Homo sapiens: one gene and its partner. The protein of the gene in region 2 purifies or fractionates together with the protein of the main gene of each other region. This does not show direct contact. Each region holds a gene or a part of one and is shown on either strand. Other genes may lie near its edges.

The links. The genes of interacting proteins can lie anywhere in the genome.
Region 1: the proteins of ITPKB (region 2) and ESF1 purify together in Homo sapiens (affinity purification with mass spectrometry; one large-scale study listed by BioGRID and IntAct). This does not show direct contact.

Annotation. Positions count from the first base shown.
Region 1 is NC_000020.11:13,774,920-13,778,419, reverse strand, and holds part of ESF1 (ESF1 homolog), read left to right. Parts: intron 1-2,149; coding exon 2,150-2,547; intron 2,548-3,149; coding exon 3,150-3,263; intron 3,264-3,500. UniProt on the Homo sapiens protein: May constitute a novel regulatory system for basal transcription. Negatively regulates ABT1.
Region 2 is NC_000001.11:226,631,131-226,635,003, reverse strand, and holds the end of ITPKB (inositol-trisphosphate 3-kinase B), read left to right. Parts: intron 1-117; coding exon 118-333; 3' UTR 334-3,314; downstream 3,315-3,873. UniProt on the Homo sapiens protein: Catalyzes the phosphorylation of 1D-myo-inositol 1,4,5-trisphosphate (InsP3) into 1D-myo-inositol 1,3,4,5-tetrakisphosphate and participates to the regulation of calcium homeostasis.

The DNA.
Region 1 (3,500 bases), on a different chromosome or scaffold from region 2:
GAAATATTGCAATACTAGATAGACTGGGTCTGTAAGATGTTATTTCTAAGCTTGTTGCTTAAAAGTAAATTCTGCTTACCTCATAGTAACTTTCAATGTTGTGTTTTTCAGATCTCATATATAGAACCTGTGACAATGCTTTCATTTTGGCGCTTTTCACTTCTATTGGCTAGTTATTTTTATTAATCCCTGCTTCGTTGTGGTGGTAACATAAAAGCCCATTTCCTGCTTTTCCTTCTAACAAGATGCCTTTTCATTCAGTTAGTCTCAAGTCAAGTTGTATCTTTGTGAAGCCTTTTTATAAATACCTCTCTGCAGGCAAATTTAGATGTCTCTCACTGTATGGTGATTGAGAACATAGATTTATAAATCAGTAAATGGTTACCTTTTATTTATGAATCCATCAAGAGCATGAGATCGTGTTACAAATCTTCTCTCTTTTCCCTTATCCTAGCTCAATTCTTTGTATGTAGTAGATACTCAGTAAATATTTGGTCAGTGAATAACTATTATAAGATTATAGGACCAAGAGAAAATTAGTTCCAATTTCATTCTAAATCTTGAACTTTTAAATTTGCTTTTAATTTTCCAAACTTAGAGCCTGTAAGCAGAAAATAAGCTCCAACTTAAAGATGAGTAAAACACGTAAGATATATCTACACACCAAGTAGATAGAAGCCTGTGATTGCTTTAGAAGTAGGAAATGAGCCCTTTCAGAGTTGTGAGGACTAAAATTTCCATCTTAAGCAAAAACAGTCTTTCAATCTTGGTGTATTGCTAATCATGACAGTTGATTACAAAGTTCAAGACCTGGCAGAAAAAGTATAAATATTATTTCTCTGTCTTTATAGGTGATCTCATCCACATCACAGCTTCTGTTGTCAACTGCGTATGAATGAGTCACTGATCTCCAACCCAGACTTCTCTGAGCTGTACACTCTTATTATTGATACTTTCTTTTAGATGACTGAGTGGCACTTCGTATTCAACATATTCAAAACTGAACTCATGATTTCCCTCCACCAAACAAACTAGTTCATTTCCAGTGTTCCCTTTTCATCTTTCCATCTTCTTAGCTAACTAGCTCTGAAAGCTAAGAAGCTATGACTCATCTTTGACACTTCCAAAACTCCCAGTCCCCGTGTCAAATCTCCAGTCGGTAATTATTGGTTTCACTTCCTGACTGACTCTGAAATCCATGTACATCTCTGCATACATACTGCCACCCAACTTAGTGCTACCTTCATTTCTTGCTTTTTGTACTGTACTACCTTTACTATATTCACATCTGTTCTTTACTTTCCCAAGTCAGTTTTCTACAGTATAGTCAAGGTGATCTCCTCAATATGCAAGTCTGAGGATGACAATATCCAAAAGAAGATGACATCCTCTTTTTTGAAAACAGCAGTGTCTTCCCATTGCTTTTATGAAAAAGTCCAAGCTCTCTATATGGTTTTTTGATAGCTTGGCCTCTACTTAACTCTTCATTTCCATTTGTTACTTGATTCTGTGCTATCTGTGATCTGGACATGATGGTTGGCTTTTTCCTATTGGCAGATTTTTACAGGTACCTTCCTTGCTCTTTCAAACAAATTTCCATCTATTAGTCTAACTTTGACTATTTAACTCCTGTTCATCCTTCAAGTAACAGCTCAGTTATCACTCACTTAGGGACCCCATTAAATCCCCTTAGAAAACATTCTTTCTGGGATATCTTAGTTGTGATTTTAACTTTTCCTATATATTGATTTTATTTGATATCCATGTATTCTTTTCACTCAGCTAGAAGTTTCACTGAGAGCACTGTTTGCTTCTCTTTTACCAACTGTTGTATATTGAGCACTTAGCACGTAGCAGGCACACTGTTAAGTATTGAATGAATGTCTGGATCTACTTGCGTGATGTGAGCATGTGTTAGGATTTCCATTAAATAACTTGGTTAAGTGTATTTTCCTTTACTCTGTTTCATAGAAGTTATGGTTAGGATTTCTATCATAAAAATTGACTAAGCATTTACTGAATATATATTTGTCTTTACTGTGTTTCATAGAAATTATATTTTTACTGGAGTTGATGTCAAGATAATTTGGATTCAGTTTAATTCAGCATATATCTTTTCTTAATTTCTTTCCCCTTTAACATTTTGCAGTGGTTCAACTCATAATGACAAGAGACAGTGATGGTTATGAAAACTCAACAGATGGTGAAATGTGTGACAAAGATGCTCTGGAGGAAGATTCAGAAAGCGTTAGTGAAATAGGAAGTGATGAGGAATCTGAAAATGAAATTACAAGTGTTGGTAGAGCTTCAGGTGATGACGATGGAAGTGAAGATGATGAAGAGGAGGATGAAGATGAAGAGGAGGATGAAGATGAGGATAGTGAGGATGATGATAAAAGTGACAGTGGCCCTGATCTTGCAAGGGGTAAAGGAAATATAGAAACTAGTTCTGAAGATGAAGATGATACGGCAGATTTGTTTCCAGAAGAATCTGGTTTTGAGCATGCTTGGAGAGAATTAGATAAAGATGCTCCTCGTGCTGATGAGGTAACCTTTTGAATAAACAAGATTATTTGTGAAAAACACAGTACAAGCAGCTTTTATGGCTGGTAGAACTGATGTCATTAAGTGGGAAAAGCTTATTGGTAATAGTATTCTTTATGATTCTGATTAAAATTTGATATGGAATATAATTATATGAACTAGAAGACGTCCAAGCAGATAAGAAGAGGCTCTACATAAATAATTAAAAGTTGCATGAAATTTTTAATACTTGTTTTAGCTAGTAGTTTGTATTTCTGTTTGTACGGCACCCAAAAGAAATGTTGCAGGGTAACATACTCAACTTCCTTACTCATGCATGCATGGCAAAATAGCTGAACAAACTTGGTGGTTAAAAAATCAGCTCATGATCATGTTCTGATTTAAGAATTAAGAACCAAGTAAGAGAAAGTACTTACCTGTTATGGTTTTACTATTGTTTGGCTCATTTGAAGTTCTCTTTTATATACTGAATTACGCTTAGATAACTCCTGTACTATTAATTTCAGAGCATAGGGGACAGAAGGCATTACATTTTTAGAATCTTTATTTTTCAAGTATTGAGAATGATATGGATTATGTACTATTTAATTCTTCTCATTTCTCAGATTACACGTCGATTAGCAGTTTGTAACATGGACTGGGATAGATTAAAGGCAAAAGATTTGCTGGCTCTGTTCAATTCATTTAAACCCAAAGGAGGTGTAATATTTTCCGTCAAGGTGAGAATTGATTTCATTTTGAAATAAATATTTCTAGGCATTTTAAGTTAAATCTGATTTTTTTTTTTTTTTTTGGCCATAGTTTTCCTTTTTAGGAAAATACTGTGGAAGTTGTCCAATCCAATTGAGTGTGAAACTTATGTAACAGGTATAAATGTTAGAAAGGAAGAGGTGAAATTATTATTATTGATAGGTTATATGATTGTTTACACATTAAAAATCCAAAGAAATAAAAGC
Region 2 (3,873 bases):
GGCACCCAACTGTCCGGCCTGAGCGAGCCTCCCCACCTGGTCACCCAGGCCCCGGGCCGCAGTGGGGAGGGCGAGGCCCGGGCTTCAGCTCACCCTTCACCCCCATGTTCTCCTCAGGTCATTGGCAGCTCCCTCCTCTTCATCCACGACAAGAAGGAACAGGCCAAAGTGTGGATGATCGACTTTGGGAAAACCACGCCCCTGCCTGAGGGCCAGACCCTGCAGCATGACGTCCCCTGGCAGGAGGGGAACCGGGAGGATGGCTACCTCTCGGGGCTCAATAACCTCGTCGACATCCTGACCGAGATGTCCCAGGATGCCCCACTCGCCTGAGCTGCCCACGCCCTCCCTGGCCCCCGCCTGGGCCTCCTTTCCTCCTCCTGTGCTTCCTTTCTCGTTCCTAACTTTTCCTTCACTTACACCTGACTGACCCTCCTGAACTGCACTACAAGACACTTTGTAGAAGAGGAGATGAGAGTTTCTAGTCATTTTCCTAACTTCAGGGCTTGGAGGTGGTGTTTGCACTGCTTTTTGTAGAGAGGGTCACCTACTAGAAGAGAAATGCCCAGTCTTAGAGGTGGGTCAGGTGTAGAGCTGGAGGGGGTCCCTGGCTGCTGAGGGGACCCTACCAGATGAGCCCTGCCTCTGGGAGCCCCCTAGGAAGCACCAGCCTGGACCTACCACCTGCGGAGGCCTGCTGCCCCCTGGCGGCCAGTGCTGTTAGAGTGCTGCCAAGCACAGCCTTATTTCTGCCGGGGCCTCCCCACCGGAGAGCCCAGGGGGCCGGCCGGGTTCCTGGTCCCTGGCTGGGAGCAGGGCTTTCTGGTAGTTGGGGCACAAAACCATCGGGGAACCACATGTTGACTGTGAGCAAAGTGTCTTCCGATTAGCAGCCTCAGGGATGCCCTGGTGGCCTCTCCAGGGCTGCTCAGGCAAGGCCCCCCACCCATCTGGTATGGAAACCTGCCGGCTCCAGGCCAGACCCAGGAGCCAAGAGAAGGCTGAAGCCAGCTTGGCTGTGTTCTCTGATCTAGGCCTTCCCAGAGGAGGCGAGCAGAAGCTGTGCCACTTGGAATTGCAACCCATGAGTTCAGAAGGCACACTCTGCCATGCTGAGCTCCAAGGGTGCTACCAGGGGAAGATGGGATCTATAGAGTCTCTGGGCCCTGGCCCCAGGGAGGAGCACATTTTTCTTGACCCTCACCTACCTGGTGCTAGTTGGTCAACCCTGCCTGCATACATGGGCTCCTGTCATGGGGCCCAGAGTCCCTTGCAGATATAGAAATAGGGGAGGAGCTCAGGTCTGCGCCAGGCAGGAAGAAGGCAGGCTTCTGGCTTCCAGAGGTGCCGCGGTGGCCTCCTGGCATCATTTGTTATTGCCTCTGAAACAAGCCTTACTGCCTGGAGGGCTTAGATTCCTGCTTCTCCAATGTAGTGTGGGTATCTTGTAGGGTATGTGGTGGATGCCAGGGCGTGCTCCAGGCACCTCTTCCTGAAGTCTCTGCATTTGGAGATTCGTGGAGAACCTATTTAAGCCCAATTTTAACTGAAAGCCAGTGAGTCTGATATGGAAGGGAATGTAAAATTTGCCTGACTTCTTAAGAACAAAACCCCCAGCTCTGTGCCCCATGCTCCTTGGGGCTTGCCACCCACTCCTTTGCTGTCAGAGGTACAGGAGCTGGGAGAGTCCAGGAGCTAGGGACACAGAGGGAGACTATGGACCAAGGTGTGTGTGTCTGGAGGAACCACTGCCCACCCCACCACCCCGGGGTCTCTGGGGAACTGTCAACCTGCCCACGGGACATGTACATTTCCCCTTTTGTGCTGGAAGTGTGAGTGACACTTGCTGGGGGTGGAGGGTGGGACACATGAGGATGTATAAGTACAGATTTTAAAAAAGGAAATCAACTTACACTTCCTGGCTCTTGTTTAAAACAGTGGTGAGCTCCTGTGTGGGCCGACTTGCTAAAGGTCACACACGCGCCCGGTGGAGCACGAGAGACCTCGTGGCAGCATGTGATCTGGAAGGCAGGCAGGACGGGGGCGTTGGGGAGCCAAAGTCAACTCTGGGCCTCTGGAGCTATAGTGACTTTTGGGCTAGAAGGGACCCTGGTGGTCTGTGCTTCAGCCATTTGCAGGGCAGGGGCATCATTAATTCAGACGTAAAGATTCTATGAATATGGACTGGCCAAAAGTTATCCTTACTCCATCTGTGAAAGAAGTTTGCTAAAGCAAATCATGATATGAACAAAAATTACAGGGGACCTGTTTAAGAGAACAAAATGTTCCAAGCACTTTAGGCAGACACCAGCTGTTTGCAAACAATGTGCTAATATGCAAATGATGTGCTTATTAAAGGAGGCCCATGGGGCCTCTTATTGGCAATACTTGGCTGTGGGTTACATTAAATATGTGAACATAGTATGAAGTAGCATCATTTTAGGGTTATTCTGTTACTTAGGGTTTTTGTTTTCTGTTTTTTTTTTCTCTTTTTTTGTATTTACCGTGCTAGTTCTCTTCTACACCTACTCTGTCTCTCAAGCCATTTTGCCACTCGCTTCCCTGCCATCTGGCCCTTCCCTTTGTCTCAGTGGGATAGATGGATTGTGAAATGGAATCTCCCAGAACCCCTGCCCTGGCAGCCTGGAAGACCGTGCCTGCCCAGCCCTCGTCACCACAGGGACTCCTTGGGTCCTGGCAGTGCATGTGCCAGCAGGCAGGACAAACTCTGTGTACCTGTGCCCAGGTGAATGGGCGCAGGGTCCTCTTGCCCTGTCCTGCGGGGGGCCCCACGAGTTCCTGGCATTCAGCACTGCTTAGCATTCTCGGAAGGTTTCTTCAACTGCTTGCTTTTCCCAGGCTTGCCTTTAGTGTCATGTAAGACATTTTTAAGTTATATTTATTTTGTTGGGTTTTAAAATTGCACAGAACACTAAGACCGAAAGGCTGGACTCTTGTTTCTCCTTGAAAGCTTTGCCTTTGTTTTGAACTTCCTTTCCCACTTGGTAGAAAGAGCCCAGAAGCAGCCCTGGCCCTGTAAGATGGACTCTTTCATCCTTCAGTTGTATTTAGCTTTGAGTTTCTCTGCATCTGTCCACCCCATGTGTATATAACCCAGCCCCTGGCTCTGGGGTGGTCACCTCGTCAGTGCCTTTTGTTCTGGAGGAGAGGACCCCCCCCGCCTGCCGAGAGGCTCTCTTCCTGTTCTGCACCCCTCTCCCCATGGGACCTTGGAGAAAACTGAACTGTTACAAACCCCTGCACAGTGCCTGTCAAACAGATGCAAACCTTCCTGAATAAAGCCTTGGAGACCAGCGCTGTCTGTGGTGTGATCCTTCTGGCCCCCAGCCCTGAGACCTGGCTGAGGGGCAGGCTGGGGAGTCTTAGGAAGCTAGAGGGCCCACATGGGGGCTGTTAGGGGAGTGGGTGTCAGACTGGGTAACATTTTAATTTGTAAAGAATATAAACCACTCTCCAAAATGAGTCTTTTCAACCCTCATGAAACTTTGAAATAGTAGCTCAGAGACTAGAACATCAACCAAGAAGCACTGTCCCCAAGTAGGGGGGTCTCCGGTGCAGCGATCGCTTCTGGGGCCTTACTCTAAGCTAGACTGGGGCTGAACACGCCCATCGGAGTTCCCGTTTTACCCAGATCAATTCCCTGAACAAAGATTTATAGTCTGTTTTACAGATGAGGAAACTGAGGTTTAAATGAAGCAACTTGACCTAAGTGGGGAGCAGGGATTTGAATCTAGAATGTGCCTTGATTGAAAACCAATTTTGTCGTCCTCCTAACTGGCAGTGGGGGGGTGTGGGGAGCAGTGTCTGGAGGGCAGAAAGCTTGTCTTATTTTTGTCCCAGATCCCAGGCTCT